Linked DNA regions of Homo sapiens. The protein of the gene in region 2 purifies or fractionates together with the protein of the main gene of each other region. This does not show direct contact. Each region holds a gene or a part of one and is shown on either strand. Other genes may lie near its edges.

Region 1 (8,743 bases), on a different chromosome or scaffold from region 2:
ATTATTTTGCTTTTGTTGATTAGCTCTATCAAAGAATAAAAAACCTCCCAAGATTTCTCAATCTTACCGCCCTTCTTTATGCTTTCTCTGTACAATGGAAAAGTAGACCAAAAGTATTTGTCATGAAAATTTTTTATCATTTGCAGTTTGTGGCATGATATGGCTTTTCTGTTTCACTGTTGGCAGTTTTATGCATGTCCTGTAGGATAACTTGATCGTTTTGTTACATATTTATGTGTGTATATATACATCCTGTGTGTGTATATATATATTTATGTAATTTAAAAAATAAAAAGCATGCTGCTTGGCTTGGCTAGCTAATGTGTAATTGTACCTGGTAAACAATTTTTTTCTTTGAAATTCTGATCATAGAGGGATTGAGCTCTCTTTGCTCTGATGAGCCATCTTCAGAAATTATGACTTCTTCCTTTCTTTCATCTTCTGAAATACATAACACTGGCCTTACAATACTACATGGAGAAAAAAGCCATGTGTTAGGGAGCCAGCCTATTTTAGCCAAAGAAGGAAAAGACCACTTGGATCTTCTAGATATGAAAAAGATGGAAAAGCCTCAGGGGACCAGCAACAACGTATCAGACTCTTCAGTTTCTCTTGCAGCAGGAGTTCATTGTGACCGTCCTTCTATTCCAGCCAGTTTCCCAGAGCATCCTGCTTTTCTCTCAAAGAAAATTGGTCAAGTGGAAGAGCAAATAGATAAAGAGACCAAGAACCCAAATGGGGTATCAAGTAGGGAGGCTAAAACTGCATTGGATGCTGATGACAGATTCACTTTGCTGACAGCCCAGAAACCACCTACTGAGTACTCTAAGGTAGAAGGCATTTATACATATTCTTTGTCTCCATCCAAAGTTTCAGGAGATGATGTTATTGAAAAGGATTCCCCTGAATCACCATTTGAAGTAATTATTGACAAAGCAGCATTTGACAAAGAATTTAAAGACTCATATAAGGAGAGCACAGATGATTTTGGTAGCTGGTCTGTGCACACTGATAAAGAATCATCCGAAGACATTTCAGAGACTAATGACAAGCTTTTTCCACTGAGAAATAAAGAGGCAGGACGTTACCCAATGTCTGCATTGCTCAGTAGGCAGTTTTCACACACAAATGCAGCACTGGAAGAGGTGTCCAGATGCGTGAATGATATGCATAACTTTACTAACGAAATACTGACTTGGGATCTGGTTCCCCAAGTGAAACAACAGACCGATAAATCTTCTGACTGCATCACAAAAACTACAGGACTTGACATGAGTGAATATAATTCAGAAATTCCAGTTGTAAATCTTAAAACTAGCACTCATCAGAAAACTCCTGTATGTTCTATTGATGGGAGCACTCCCATCACTAAATCAACAGGTGATTGGGCAGAAGCATCTCTCCAGCAAGAAAATGCTATTACTGGAAAACCTGTACCTGACTCTTTGAATTCCACAAAAGAATTCAGTATCAAAGGTGTGCAAGGCAATATGCAGAAACAGGATGACACACTTGCAGAATTACCTGGATCTCCACCTGAGAAATGTGACTCTTTGGGTTCTGGAGTGGCCACAGTGAAAGTGGTTTTACCTGATGACCACCTGAAAGATGAAATGGACTGGCAGAGCTCTGCATTGGGAGAAATCACAGAAGCTGATAGTTCTGGTGAGTCTGATGACACAGTAATAGAGGACATCACAGCAGATACATCATTTGAAAATAACAAAATTCAGGCTGAAAAACCTGTTTCCATTCCAAGTGCTGTTGTAAAAACAGGTGAAAGAGAAATCAAAGAGATTCCCAGTTGTGAGAGAGAAGAAAAAACATCTAAAAACTTTGAAGAATTGGTCAGTGACTCTGAGCTGCATCAAGATCAGCCTGATATTCTTGGAAGGAGTCCAGCTAGTGAGGCAGCATGTTCAAAAGTACCCGATACGAATGTCTCCTTAGAAGATGTGAGTGAAGTTGCTCCTGAAAAGCCTATTACTACTGAGAACCCCAAACTTCCTTCAACAGTGTCTCCAAATGTTTTTAATGAGACAGAATTCTCATTAAATGTGACAACATCTGCCTATTTGGAGTCATTACATGGGAAAAATGTTAAACATATAGATGATTCCTCCCCAGAGGACCTGATAGCAGCCTTTACAGAAACCAGAGATAAAGGAATAGTAGATAGTGAAAGAAATGCTTTTAAAGCAATATCAGAGAAGATGACAGACTTTAAAACAACTCCTCCTGTAGAAGTCTTACATGAAAATGAGTCCGGTGGTTCTGAAATTAAAGACATTGGAAGCAAATACAGTGAACAAAGCAAAGAAACAAATGGAAGTGAGCCTCTAGGTGTTTTCCCTACCCAAGGTACTCCAGTAGCATCTCTTGACTTAGAACAAGAACAGCTCACAATTAAGGCTCTTAAAGAATTAGGTGAAAGACAGGTTGAGAAGTCAACTTCTGCACAGCGTGACGCAGAATTGCCTTCTGAAGAAGTACTGAAGCAAACTTTCACATTTGCTCCAGAATCTTGGCCACAGAGATCATATGACATCCTAGAACGTAATGTCAAGAATGGATCTGATCTTGGGATTTCCCAGAAGCCCATCACTATCAGAGAAACTACTAGGGTAGATGCTGTTTCCAGCCTTAGCAAGACTGAATTGGTAAAAAAGCATGTCCTAGCAAGACTTCTGACAGACTTCTCAGGTAACCATTTATATTAGAATACTGCATGTGGTTAATTCTGTGATTGATTACTTATCAGCGTGCCATTTATGTTAGTCTGATTTATACCTACAAAATTATGGCTAAAATACAAAAACAATATGCTGTATGATGGGAAAGGCAGATTCTTCTCCTGTCTTTTTTTAAATGATTGCTTGATTTGGTTTCCTTAATATCAATATTTCCCAAAGCAGTAGACCACTTTGTAACATTAATCTTCCCCTAAATATTTTTTCTATGCTCGCTGGGTACGGTGGCTCACGCCTATAATCCCAGCACTTTGGGAGGCCGAGACGGGCGGATCACAAGGTCAGGAGATTGAGACCATCCTGGCTAACACGGTGAAACCCCGTCTCTACTAAAAATACAGAAAAATTAGCTGGACGTGGTGGCGGGCGCCTGTAGTCCCAGCTGCTTGGGAGGCTGAGGCAGGAGAATGGCGTAAACCCGGGAGGCAGAGCTTGCAGTGAGATGAGATCGCGCCAGTACACTCCAGCCTGGGTGACAGAGCAAGACTCTGTCTCAAAAAAAAAAAAAAAAAGAAAATTTTTTTTCTATGCTCCAGTTATATTTCAAGGTACTTCTTTTCTTATAGGTTGCCCCTAAGGTGATATTAGGTGAGAATCTAATATCATCAGGTTCTTACTTATTTACAAAGCTTGTTTTTAAATCTCCATAATTGTCATACTTTTTAGCACTTGGATTTTTTGATATGTGCTTTGTGGAATCTTAGCAATCAAAGATAAAGGAATTCCTGCTGGGAAAGATAGTAAATGAAACTTTTAATTAATGTGATCGTATACTATAGAGATTTTATGCTCTGAAAGTAGGTAACCAGTATTGTAGTACTATTTTGTGAGTAATGCTTAGGAGAACTCATGCATTCTTCTACTTTCTATCTTATTTAATATTCTTCAGGCCAAAACTCATTATTAGATGGTACCAGAAACCCCTTCTCTTGTCTTTTATCTATTTCAAATGATCACTTTTCTAGCAAGTGGCTTTCAGTTAGATTACTGCAAATGCTGTCTATTCTGGGATCTTGGAAAGTACAAGAAAAAAAAAGGATCTTTCAAGCCCCTCTACAAGGGACCCCCATCCTTTAATGTAATACCAAGTTTTACATCTACTGTATGGTCAGTGTTAGGTGCTATGTAGAGGTCTGTGGTTTTTAAACTATTTGATTATAGATCTTTTATCAAATGAAATCATACACAGAGTTGTAGTATTTACAAGAAAATTAGATTTTTGTTAGGCTAAATGTATTTTGTGTTTGATTTTGTGCCTTTTTATAAAGGCATTTTCTTACTGGAAACTGTAGGTAGATTTATCTTTTTAAGTTTTAATATTTAAAATAGATAAATTGTACTTAACCTTACAATGGTATTGTGAGGATTAAATATGAAAATGCAGGTAATACAGTGCCTAGCACATAGTAAATATGCAGTCAGATTTAGCACCAAATACAGGGCCTGCCACATAAGTAGTACTGGATAATTATTTGTTGAATGAATGATATGAATTATTTCACTAACAATTATCAGTGAAAGACATTGAGGCTTTTTGATAAACCAAAAATTTTGAATTACCAATTAAGGATAGCTCTTATACTCTAGCATTTGAAGCTCACTGAATTTGGATTAAAGAGTACTAGGTTCTAATTCTTGCTGTGCTGTGTCTAGAAGTATGACTTTGAACAAGTAACTTACATAACCTTTCGGGGGCCTCAGTTTTAATATCTGTAAAGTGAGGATGTAAAGTGAAGTAGATGGTCTTCAATTATCATTTAAATAATATGATTCTCTGGCTCTGGTACATTCTAGATTTCTTCCTCAGTTGTCATAATTCTTACAGGTAGTAACTTTTGGGCAATAAGGCATATAGGAATTATGCTACAAGAACTCCAGTGTCTAATTCTGGCAAATTCCTGTTTTAGCATGACCTTAGATGACTAGTCTAATTGGTTCAGCATCTTCCTTTGTTAATGTGATGATCATTATTTTGCCCTGCTTTGTATGTTGCAGTAAATAAAGTGCTGTGTAAATGCTAATTATTAGTGATTATCAACTGAATTATTTAATCTAGCGTGAGAGATGTAAAGGGCTATGGAAGTTCAGGATATTTGTCACTGACCAAAGTCTATGATTAGTGTATGTTTTTAGATTGTAATTAAAGAAGACCGGTATAGTTAGACCAAGAAGTTTAAAGGCCTTTCTTGCAGCTTTCAAAAGTGAAAACCTTTTAAAATTGTCTTATTTATGAATAAATCTTTAAAAATATAATCCATTTCATTGCAGTGAAATAAATAAATAAAAACATAAACCATTTCAGTAAAATGCATCAGTGTCTAGTTTTATTTATTTATCTTTTTTTTTTTTTTTTTAATTTTTTGAGACAGAGTCTCACTCTGTTGCCCAGGCTGGAGTGCAGTGGCGCGATCTCGGCTCACTGCAACCTCCACCTCCAGGGTTCAAGCGACTCTCCTGCCTCAGCCTTCCGAGTAGCTGGGATTACAGGCGTGTGCCACCACGCCCAGCTAATTTTTTGTATTTTTACTAGAGATGGGGTTTCACCATGTTGGCCAGGCTGGTCTCTCAAACTCCTGGCTTCAAGTGATCCGCCTGCGTTGGCCTCTCAAAGTGCTGGGATTTACAGGCCTGAGCCACCACACACAGCCGATTGTCTAGTTTTAAATACGTGTATCTGCATATTCTTCCTTTCTAAGGTAAAAACAGTGCTTTAATTATATTCTGCCTTAAGTTGTTTGGGAAAATAGGCAAAAGAAACAATGAAAGAATTAGTGGTTTTCTGTTTGTTTTTGCTATTTTATGGTATATTATGTAACAGCTTGTAATGAAGCCTTTATCATATTATAGTTGGTTGCTGAGTAATTAAGTTATGATAGACTCTCATAGTTTGGGGAAGAAAATCAGATCCCTGCCTCTCACATACCTAGTGTAGTGAAGATAGTTTTTTGTGTTTTAGTATCCAGATTGGCAGGATGCAAGGAAATAAGCATATAGTTTGGTGAAGTACATGTAAATTGTTACAGCCTTTCTGGAAGGCAGTTGGCAATATGTAACAGACCTAGAACTGCCCTAGCAATCTTGTTTTTAGGAATTCTTTTTTTTTTTTTTTTTTTTTTTTTTTGAGACAGAGTCTCGCTCTGTCGCCCAGGCTGGAGTGCAGTGGCGCAATCTCGGCTCACTGCAAGCTCTGCCTCCCGGGTTCACGCCATTCTCCTGCCTCAGCCTCCCGAGTAGCTGGGATTACGGGCGCCTGCTACCACGCCCGGCTAATTTTTTGTATTTTTTAGTACAGACGGGGTTTCACCATGTTAGCCAGGATGGCCTCAATCTCCTGACCTGGTGATCTGCCCACCTCGGCCTCCCAAAGTGCTGGGATTACAGGCGTGAGCCACCCGTGCCCGGCCCTTTTTTTTTTTTTTTTTTTTTTTTAAAGACAGAGTCTCACCGTGTTGCCCAGGCTGGAGTGCAATGGCACGATCTCGGGTCACTGCAACCTCCACCTCCCGGGTTCAAGCGATTCTCCTGCCTCAGCCTCCCAAGTAGCTGGGATTACAGGTGCCTGCCACCACGCCCGGCTAATTTTTTGTATTATTAGTAAAGACGGAGTTTCACTATATTGGCCAGGCTGGTCTCGAACTCCTGACCTCGTGATCCGCCCGCCTTGGCTTCCCAAAATACTGAGATTACAGGCGTGAGCCACGGAACCCAGCTGGAATTTATCCTTTTTTAAAAATGTGCAAAAATAACTACACAGATGTTCATTATAGCACAGTTTATGATAGTGGCAGATATCTCGGTGTCTTAACAATTAGAGATTGGTTGAGTATATTATGGTATAACTGTGCAATCGAATATTACACAGTCATTGAAGTTGTTAAAGTTTTGTTTTTTTTTTTTTTAAGAAATGGAAAAATATAGAAAAGTACAAAGGCAGCCTACACCCATATCTTCTCTATATGTAGAATTAACTTATGTTAATTGTTAGCATTGGTAGTCATATTTGCTTCCAAACTAAAGGACTCTTTGATTACCACCTGGCCACGCCCTCCATCTCCCCTTCCCCAGACGTAACACCGTCATGGACCTGGTACATCCTTCCAGTTTATTTTAAATAAATGTGTTTGTATTGTTTTATGCTTTTTAACCATTCATTCATGTTATCATGTTTGTTGTATAACGTTTTCCATTCAACATTAGGTTTTTAAACTTCTTTCATGTTGGAATTTATATAATTTATTCATTTTAACAGCTATGTAGTAATCCATTATATGAATATATTATTTTCTTTTGGTAAGGATTTAGATTCTTTCCTATTTTTTGCTATTATAGACAGCGCTGAAGTTAACATTCTTCTTTTTTTTTTTCCTTTTTCTTTTTCTTTTTTGAGATGGAGGAGTTTCACTCTGTCGCCCAGGCTGGAGTGCAGTGGTGCAATCTCCGCTCACTGCAAGCTCCGCCTCCCGGGTTCATGCCATTCTCCCGCCTCAGCCTCCTGAGTAGCTGGGACTACAGGCGCCTGCTACCACGCCCAGCTAATTTTATTTTTGTATTTTTAGTAGAGTCGGGGTTTCACTGTGTTAGCCAGGATGGTCTCAATCTCCTGGCCTCGTGATCCGCCCGCCTCGGCCTCCCAAAGTGCTGGAATTACAGGCATGAGCCACCGCGCCCGGCCTTAAGTTAACGTTGTTATACTTGTCTGTTTTTACACATATGTGACTATTTCCCCAGCGTTAGGGTGCTACTGCTTATCAGTTTCACTTCTAGCTCTGTGCCTTATTTTTCTAGTTACTGTCAAAGTTAGTGTCTTCTGTTATGTAAAAATGTTCGTAATTTATTAGTAAAAACTACATTGTTCAGCACCCAGCAGATGGTGGGTGCTAAAGTGGAATGAAAAGAGTTACCAAACAAGGAATACAAAATAATTCCTATCTTGGTATCATTTAAAGTGAATCTATGCTAGAAAGATTCCATAAAGAAAAAAAATGAATCTATATACCTACATATACAGGGAATCTGAAGTAATTTTTAAAAGCAATGTCAGAATGGTTTTCTTTTCTTATGGCCAAGTAGGCTTTTACTGGACCTGACCTTCCTGCATATAACTGGACAAAATTTTTAAAAAACAAAGACCCGAAGGCACTGGAGGATGAACGGGAGCAGTCAGATTCTGAAAGAGAGTTGACACATGTAAGAAGAGACAGCATGAAATTAGTTTTTTATTTTTACTGCTTTTAGCTAGAGGACAGGCTGAAGTGGGCACCTGACAGGCTGGCTTAAACCTTCATAGAAAACCTAAGCAGTGGACAGCATTTGGGTCAGCCACAACCACTGAGTCAGTGGAATGTAAGGGGAGGAGGAATCTTGGAAGGGAGAGATCCAGAGAGTGACAGCCTAAAATTCTGTAGATAAAATAAACTGTGTTTAAGCCTCTGTTTAATTGTAAACCACACTTAACACAAAAGATTATAAGCAGCACAACTAGAGATGAAAGAAGTGAACTGGGCCGGGTGCAATGGCCCACGCCTGTAATCCCAGCACTTTGGGAGGCCAAGGCGGGTGGATCACGAGATCAGGAGTTCAAGACCAGCCTGGTCAAGCTGGTGAAACCCCATCTCTACTAAAAATACAAAAATTAGCCGGGCACATTGGCAGGCGCCTGTAATCCCACCTACTCAGGTGGCTGAGGCAGGAGAATCGCTTGAACCCCTGGGGGTGGAGGTTGCAGTGAGCCAAGATCATGCCATTGCACTACAGCCTGGGTGACAGAGTAAGACTCCGTCTGAAAAAAAAAAAAAAAAAGAAGAAGTGAGCCGAGTTTGTAGTTTGAAGGCCAGGCACAGTGGCTCATGCCTGTAATCCCAGTACTTCAGGAGGCTGAAGCAGGTGGATCACTTGAGCCCAAGAGTTCAAGGCCAGCCTGGGCAGCATGGTGAAACCCCATCTCCACTAAAAAATACAAAATTAAGCCAGGCATGGTGGCCTGTGCCTGTAGT
Region 2 (8,743 bases):
GTCTTTCCTTATACAATTTCCACAGTATGCTCCTTATGTTAGACAGATTCGTTTTATTAAATTGTTTTTATATTTTTTTTAACTTGTGGACAGTTTTTTAAACATGTGGGAGGAGTGAAGGAAGATAAGTTTGTTTTACTGGATATGATTCCGATGGGAAGAAGGCAGCTCTATGCAAGGCTTTTGATAGCCAGAGGGCTTATGAATGCATACGGATAGGGAAAAGGGGGATCCTGGAGGTGAGAAAAAGGCACAATGAGGCCAATTTGAGACTTTTGACCAGTGTGGATCAGGAGCTACTTGGCAATGTCATTGCCAGTACCAGTTGTGGCAAAGATGTTTTGGGCAATGTCTCCCGCTGGACTGTACTGGATAAAGTAGTGGAATATTTTGGTTCCCATGTTGTAGTTGTAGGACCATTGTCTGTGGAGTGAGAAGACTGGTTGAATGCTGACTTCACAGACTGTTGTACCTGCCTCCATACCACCAGCACCCACACACACATTTTTGCTGCTTCTATGATCAAGAACAAGTTACTGAATTACCTCTAGGTCCATGGTTGCACATATGAACCATAGGACCAGTGCTACCTTTTACCTCACAATTTTGTTAAAGAAATTATAAAATTTTTGTATAAACACTTCATAACACGGTAAACCATACTCAGAGATTGGCCTTTTTGACCGCAGTTAATTTTTAATAGTTCTACTTGGCTATGTTAGATAACAAGCTAATATTAAACTTGAATCCCCTAAAAGATGCGTCCCCCAGAAGTTCAGAATACTCCAGTGTCCTTGAGTTTCATGTAACCAAACACCTTTAACCTAAAAAATAAAAATTCTGTGGGAAGAGGTATGGCATTAATGGTTAAGCACATGAGCTTTGGATTCAAAAGACCTTGGTTCGAATGCTTATCTAGAAGTGTGGCTTTAGGCAACTTAAGTCAACTCTCTAAACTTCAATTTCCTCCATCTTTAAAAAGATGTAATTATACCTGCATTCCAGTAGTATTGGAAGTATTAAGTTATATATAAGGTATGTGAAGCACTTCATAAGGCCTAATTCGTGGTAAATTCTCAGTACATAGTAGGTGTCTTTCCATATACCTTCCTTTCTAAAAACATCTCAGAATTTTTATGTAATCATCAAGGTTATTTGTGAAATGATAGAAATTAGTCATCTTCAACTAACAAAGCTGCCGATGTTTAATCCTAACTACTAAATAGTTATTTAATAGAATTTTACTTGCTCTTTTGTCCATATTTTCCTCTATGAAATTATGTCCACTATCCAAATAGTTAATTTGGTAAATTCTCTTAAGGCCTTTGATCATGAAAGTATCAGCCTCAAATTTTCATAGGAATGTGTGTTGAATTCACTTAACTGGTGTATTTATAGACCAGGTACCTGAATTATTTTAGACTAACTTTGGGAACAAAAGGTGTCTGCAATGGAAGACACTAGTTATCAGGAAATTGAGCAGGTGGGGAATGTAGAAAAAGCTAAAGTTGATAAAAGTTTTCAAGTTATCAGAACATTTTATATGACTTAAGAGTTTTTTAAGTAGCTGTGACCTAGATTTTAGCTTTCTGGAGCTGAGGCAAAAAAGTTAAGCAATAGATCAGAAATCAGTGATAGGGTATTTTAAATTGTGCTTCTAAAAATACGGTGGCTTCTACTCTGACTCATCTGTATGCAGATTGTGCTTCTAACTAAACTACGGATTAATGGCTATTTTCTAGAATCAAAACTAAAATGATCAAGGAGGTAACTTAGTGAATTGTGCTTTATAACATTAATAGAAGAGTACATCTGTCACCTTAGAAGTTAAGACTTTTCATACTAAAAAAATAAGACCTAGAGAATGCACAGTCAATAAAAGTATTAATTTTATATACAAGATAAACATAGACTTTAAAGCTTACACCTCGTCTACCACTGTATATTCAGTACCTGGAACAGTTCCTTGCATCTGGCAGTTGATCAACAATTCTTTGTTTTTTAATGAAACTAATGAAACATGAAAAACCTAGAATATTAATATTAGGTAAAACAGTATTCTTTGAAACTTCGGAGAGGTGATTTTAGGACTCTAGACCAAATATTTAAGTAGATTTATAGTTTAGGTAAATTTGTAGATAAGTCCATAATAAGTAATCAAGAAATTAAAAGTGATGCCTGACCTTCTGAAAATTTGGTTTTGAGAATACTGGTACCATGATTTTCGAAATATTTCTTGTTGCCATTGTGACAAGCAGTATATAATTGGATAAAGGATATTGATTGTGCGGACCTACCATAACATTTCTAATGCAGTAAAGAAGGAATCAATTTTAAGAGGAAGAAAGAACTACAGATATTGTGCATTTAAATAATAATTATAGAATGTGAAAGGAGATAAGTAATTAAGGAAACCTATACATTTATGTCTGATGCGAGAGAGCTTTTCAGGAGGAAAAAAACAAATTACATATTAAAACCAAAGGTTTAGAATCCCGATTTATCTTTTTTATTATAGCTATGTCTGAGAAATGCTATCTCCCATATAAGGCTTAGAAATTTTCATTCATGTTTTAAATTTTGAAATAATTTGCTGATAATTAATTTGTTATAAGAGCTAAATAAATGTCATTATGAAGTTAACCTGCAATGTTGGGTACCTGTTTTCTTATACCTATGAAAGGAAAACTGGAAAATTTTCTTAGTTTACAGGGATGTTAATGTGACTTTAATTTTTCTCTACCCTTAACCATATACCTTATATTGCAGAAATTGGAATGGGATTAACAGGATTTGGAGTGTTTTTCCTGTTCTTTGGAATGATTCTCTTTTTTGACAAAGCACTACTGGCTATTGGAAATGTGAGTTTTTAAATATATATTTTAACTAAATTTATAAGGAAATTTTAACTACGAATGAATTATTATCTGCTATTAAATTTGGGGAAAATAATTCACTATTACTCATAAGTAATTCCTGTTACATTCTCTATTTCCATCAGGAATGAAACCTGTCAGCTTTCTGTTTAAATAAAAGGTAAACACTTAATGAGGTTTTCTAATTCCATAACTACTCTGTTAAGTGTTTGTCATGAGATTTACAATAGATTAAATGAAGGCTGCCTCTAAATAGGAGTTCAAAATAGATGACTTGATAGTTTCATGTCTTGATAAATCACTAAAGTATTTTTACTTTAAACATCCAAGACTTCACATTTGATTCAGCTGCATAAGATAGATTTTTTTAACCTTTTTAAAAATATATATTTCTATGTTAATGGTTGACTTGCTTAGAAAGGGATCTATGTTGTTTATTTGGAATGTGTACTATGCTATTCATGTGTGGAGGTTATGATCCAGAAATAAATAATAACCCTTCTAAGGTAGTGAAGACACTGTATGTGTGTGTGTGTGTATATATATATATACACACACACATATATATTTGGGCTTTTAACTGGAAATGGGAAAAGATAAAGAATAGCAAAATTGTTCAAAATTGATGTCTTAATAAATGATAATAGCATTAGTATCCTAGAATATGAAGCTTAACCATTAGGCTTAATATGTATTTGTGCGAAATATTTTTCACTAAAGAATGTTAATGGGGAGGGCAAGTATTTGGAAAGAAAACCTGGGGAAAGCAAGCTCTTAATCCATCACCATTTCTTGTCCACAGAATACATTCAAAATATTTGAAAACACATGGTTGTATTTTTATTTCTGCTGCCACCAGATATTCTAGAATTTATAAAACTAGAATCTTCTTGGCTTCACGTTGTTTCTTCTGCTATCAACTTAGCCATGTCAATATTTCTCCCATCCATAGAAACTCCTGTAGCCTATGATGAATATTTCAGAACCAAGAGGAATACCCTTGGGTGACATATTTATGGGCAGCTTTCCTCTTTATGCCTTGCCAACTCATCTGCTTGACTAAGCCTTCCTCATCCAGCTAAAACTAGGAAAACTACTGCAGACACAGATGCCCCTTGGTAACGTCTAATCTTTCTTTGTTTCTCTTTTTCTCCATTTAATCAAGATAGAAGAGGAATGAGACAAGTGGAACAAAGCTACAACTTTAAAATGCATAACCCACTCCTTGGTTCTGCTGCTTGGTTGTACATTACAGTTCTGTCTGGCCAGTTGCCCACATTAAAAGCCAAACAAATGTGCTTCTTTTTTTATATTTAGCTTTGACTTTACGTTTAAAATTTATGCATTGTGTTTAATTACCTTTTCCGTGTTGTATTTTCTTTCTCTTTTAGGTTTTATTTGTAGCCGGCTTGGCTTTTGTAATTGGTTTAGAAAGAACATTCAGATTCTTCTTCCAAAAACATAAAATGAAAGCTACAGGTTTTTTTCTGGGTGGTGTATTTGTAGTCCTTATTGGTTGGCCTTTGATAGGCATGATCTTCGAAATTTATGGATTTTTTCTCTTGTTCAGGTAAGGCATATTATTGTCTCTTTCAGTAAATCAGTGTGTCAGATAGTTAGTACAAAAACTCAGATATTTGCATCAGTTGGAGTAAGATGATGATCATTTCCTTAAATGGAATTTTATTTAGGTTGAATCTTATAGATTTAGATGAAGCAACTATAAAAATGTTTTATCACATGTGAATGATTGCCTAATGGTATAAATTATCTTGTTTTGTCAGCACAATAAAGTTTATTTTATTGGCATTTTAAGGCACCATCTTTATGTTGGATATTTGTATCAACTAAATAGTGGTAGGTAGGTCGGTCGATCGATCAATCGGTAGGTAGGTAGGTAGATAGATAGATAGATAGATAGATAGATAGATCCAGCATTTTGGTGTGTAGAATCTTATACTTCATAGCTACTGCTACTTGATGGAAATTTATTTAGCACATATACGTATTAGAAGATTGTTTACCAAATACACTACTATGGGAGATTTTGAGCAGGTAATATTTTGTAAATGCCAGTTAGCAGATAAACAATAGTATGTGTATATATCTATATGAAAATACCTTTGGCCAGGTGCGGTGGCTCACACCTGTAATCCCAGCACTTTGGGAGGCCGAGGTGGGCGGATCACCTGAGGTCAGGAGGTCAAGACCAGCCTGGCCAGCATGATGAAACCCCGTCTCTACTAAAAATTCAAAAATTAGCTGGCCATGCTGGCAGGCGCCTGTAATCCTAGCTACTCGGGAGGCTGAGGCAGGCGAATTGTTTGAACCTGGGAGGCGGAAGTTGCAGTGAGCCGATCACACCATTGCACTCCAGCCTAGGCAATAGAGCGAGACTCTGTCTCAAAAAAAAAAAAAAAAAAAAAAAAAAAACAGAAAAGAAAATAACTTTAAGTAGGGTTGAGCTTAATTATTTATTCCAGAAATGCATATCCTTTGTCTTCTGTCTGCCAGGCACTGTATTACCCACAGGAGACATAAAAATAAATTAAGTACCAAATCTGCTTTAGAAAATCTCTCATTTCTATTATGGAAAGTAGACTCTAAAAATACCAATAGGATATAGTCATAATGCCATTATAAATGTGTATGCAGAATATTGTGGAAGCATGATTAAAAAATTAGTAAATTCAAGGAGAGGTGAGAAATGTTAACTGATAAACTGGGCTTTGAAGAATGGGTAAGAATTTATCCTATAAACGAGAAAGGGAACGACAGTTAACAGAAGGAACAGACAGGGCCATAAAAACACACAGCTTGTTCTGAAAAGAATGAATACTCTTATAGAACAGGAGCATGTGATCAGTTGAAGGAAATGGTTGGTAATGAAACTGAAAATGAAGCCTGGAGCCAGGTTACAAACTTTCTTTGATGACTTGTTGAGAAAAGTATACCTTATCCTGTAACCAAATTTGGGCTGGGGGAGCAGTGTTTGGAGAAGGTCGGGGGAGTGGGGCACAGAGGTTTTTAAGCCAGAGGTGGTACAACAGGGTAGATGTTTTAGGAAGGTTGTTCTGATATCAGGATAAAGTAGGTATTAAAGAGAAAAACTGAAGTCAGGGGAGCCAGTCAAGAGGCGGTTAATACAGTACAGAATATACAGTGATAAGACTGGAATCTTGGAGTACTTTTGACATTTTAGGGTAGGTGGAGAAAAAGAAGAAAACACTAGAAGAGACTAGGAAAAGAGGTGGGAGAAGAACTAGGAGTAAAGATCATAGTGGCTAAGAGAGAAAAGAGTGAAGAAGAGTTTGTTTTGGCAGATGTATCTTGCAGCAGAAAACTTAAGCACCTTAAGAAGTAAGAAAATCATTGGCTTTCCCAGTTATGTGGGGGTTTTAGTAATGAAGGTTAAAAGCCAAAGCTGATCTTTGAGATGAATAAAAAATGGGAAGTCTTAGTATCATCGACAAGCTTGGAGTAATACACAGGTTTCGTGGTTTAGAGAGCTTTGTGGTATAAATACTAGTTTTTGTTGTTGGGTTTTGTTGTGTTCTGAGATATTCTGAGCTGGAGATTTAGTGCCAAGGGTCTTTGATGTTGTTTTTCTAGATATTTATAACCCTAAATAATGGCATTTGAAATCACACATTTTTATGTTTTAAAACAATACTTAAAACAAAATAAATGATCTTTTGAATTCATTACTACTAGAAAATGATTGTGATTTTCTTTGAAACACGCACATACACCATCAACATAAATACTTGTCTAATTTAAAAATTCTGCTTTCTGTTTAATTCTTTATTTTGACTTCTGCAGATCCATAACAGAATCTTATTGCTTAACTTCTGAATTGTATTCATTGTAGTATTTTCATCCCTATCTAACTCTGTGAAGAAAACAGCTTTTTTTCTGTACTCGTCTTACCACAATCAACACAGAAGACTGCTGTGACCAAATGGGTGGGGGGTTTTCCCGATATCGCAATCAGTTAGTTGTCTGCAACAGACAACAGCTGGGTGTCCTCCCAATATAGTTCTGATACTGTCTACATGGAGATAGCTCCAGATCACACAGGTTGAGGGCTCAGTCCCACAACTGTCCTCCACTCCCAATGATGCCAGCCACAAGCCCCAGGTTGTTTTACCCATGCTTCTGACTGATCAGCTCTAAGTTGGGGTTCCCACGATCCCCTGTTTGGATCAGACTAATTTACTAGAGAGGCTCACAGAGCTCAAGGAAACACTGATGTTTACTAGTTTATTATAAAGGATATTACAAAGGATACAAATAAAGAGATGCATAGGGCAAGGAAAGGGGGGAGGGTCGCAGATCCCCCCCCACCCTCCCCAACCCACCATCCTCCAAGAACATCCTTGTGTTCAGCTATCCGGAAGCTCCCTGAACACTGTCCTTTTGGGTTTTTATGGAGGCTTCATTACTAGGCATGATTGATTAAATTATTGGCCATGAGTGACCAGCTTCACAGCCCCCCTCCCCTTCGTGGAGGTTAGGAGGTAGGGCTCAGATTTCCAGCCCTCTAATCTTGCCTTGGTCTTTCTGGTGACCAGCCCCCATCCTGAAGCTGCCTAGGGGCTGCCAACCATTGATGATAACTCATTAGTATACAAAAAGACATCACCTTGTAGAGACTCTTAAGTATTTTAGGAGTTGTAAGCCAGAAAATGAGGTCAAAGACCAAATATATATTTCACAGTATCACTACATATTTTAAGACCCAGGAAAAGTTTAGTTTCTTTGCATTTTTAAAATAAACTATTTCATTCTCTTCCTATACTGAGGTAGCTTAACTGATCTACTGTCAATTTTAAACTGGTTAGAAGCTGTTTAACTTCTGTAGACTTGTATTTCTACCAAGAAAGAATGAGACATACTGTGAGGATCAGTATCTGGCAGGTAGTCTCTTAGTGTTAACTAAATGTTTTGACCCTTAGTACTTACTTAGTAAATGATAGCTATTATTATTTTCATGGTTCTACACATATGGTCTCAACAGCCCCTTTCTTTTTATCAGTTTCACCCCACACAACTCATAGTTGGAGAAATCTTCAGCAGTTGAGCTAACTCATAATCTGAGTTATATATAGCTAGGCCTCATGTACTTGTCACATTTTTACCAACAATCACAAAATTTTTAATTAAGTTTGTAGTTATTTCTAAGTTTGAAGACCCTCAATTATTCAGAATTTTAACAGGATACTTTCTTTTTCCTTGGTTAGCAATTATTTTGAAAATAGAAAATGTGTAAATATTAAGAACCTTTTTTTTCCCTCTCCCAGGGGCTTCTTTCCTGTCGTTGTTGGCTTTATTAGAAGAGTGCCAGTCCTTGGATCCCTCCTAAATTTACCTGGAATTAGATCAGTAAGTAATCATGTATATTTTAGGCCAACAAAATACGTATTTTGATGCTTTTTACTTCTAGAAATTTGAGTAATTGATACTTGGTTAATTGCTGAGTTTTGTATTATGATATAGTTACTTCACATAGATCATGAGTACCATGAAGACCAAAAAATAATTATTGCTAAACCTATAAAATGTGAAATTTTGTTTTACCGTATCCATTTCTGGATCCATATTCTCTATTTTTTAATGTTACTCAGATTTGATATGCTATGCTACCTTTCTCTTTGAGAGTTCAGGGCATTTTTTATTTAACTTTTATATAATCTCTAATTTTAGAAGCAATAATGTAAAAAGGAAACCATTATTTCCTACAAATATTTTGTTTCTCAGACTGTATCACCAATAGACTAGATTCAGACAATTAAATAAGGCCGGGTGTGGTGGCTCACACCCTGCACTTTGGGAGGCTGAGGTGGGTGAATTGCTTGAGCCTAGGA

The links.
Region 1: the proteins of GOLT1B (region 2) and RTN3 purify together in Homo sapiens (affinity purification with mass spectrometry; 2 studies listed by BioGRID and IntAct, with this or other methods). This does not show direct contact.

The regions. Positions count from the first base shown.
Region 1 is NC_000011.10:63,718,330-63,727,072, forward strand, and holds part of RTN3 (reticulon-3), read left to right. Parts: intron 1-372; coding exon 373-2,703; intron 2,704-7,820; coding exon of another isoform or gene 7,821-7,837; exon of another isoform or gene 7,838-8,743. UniProt on the Homo sapiens protein: May be involved in membrane trafficking in the early secretory pathway. Inhibits BACE1 activity and amyloid precursor protein processing. May induce caspase-8 cascade and apoptosis.
Region 2 is NC_000012.12:21,504,116-21,512,858, forward strand, and holds part of GOLT1B (vesicle transport protein GOT1B), read left to right. Parts: intron 1-2,769; coding exon 2,770-2,861; intron 2,862-4,267; coding exon 4,268-4,446; intron 4,447-8,179; coding exon 8,180-8,261; intron 8,262-8,743. UniProt on the Homo sapiens protein: May be involved in fusion of ER-derived transport vesicles with the Golgi complex.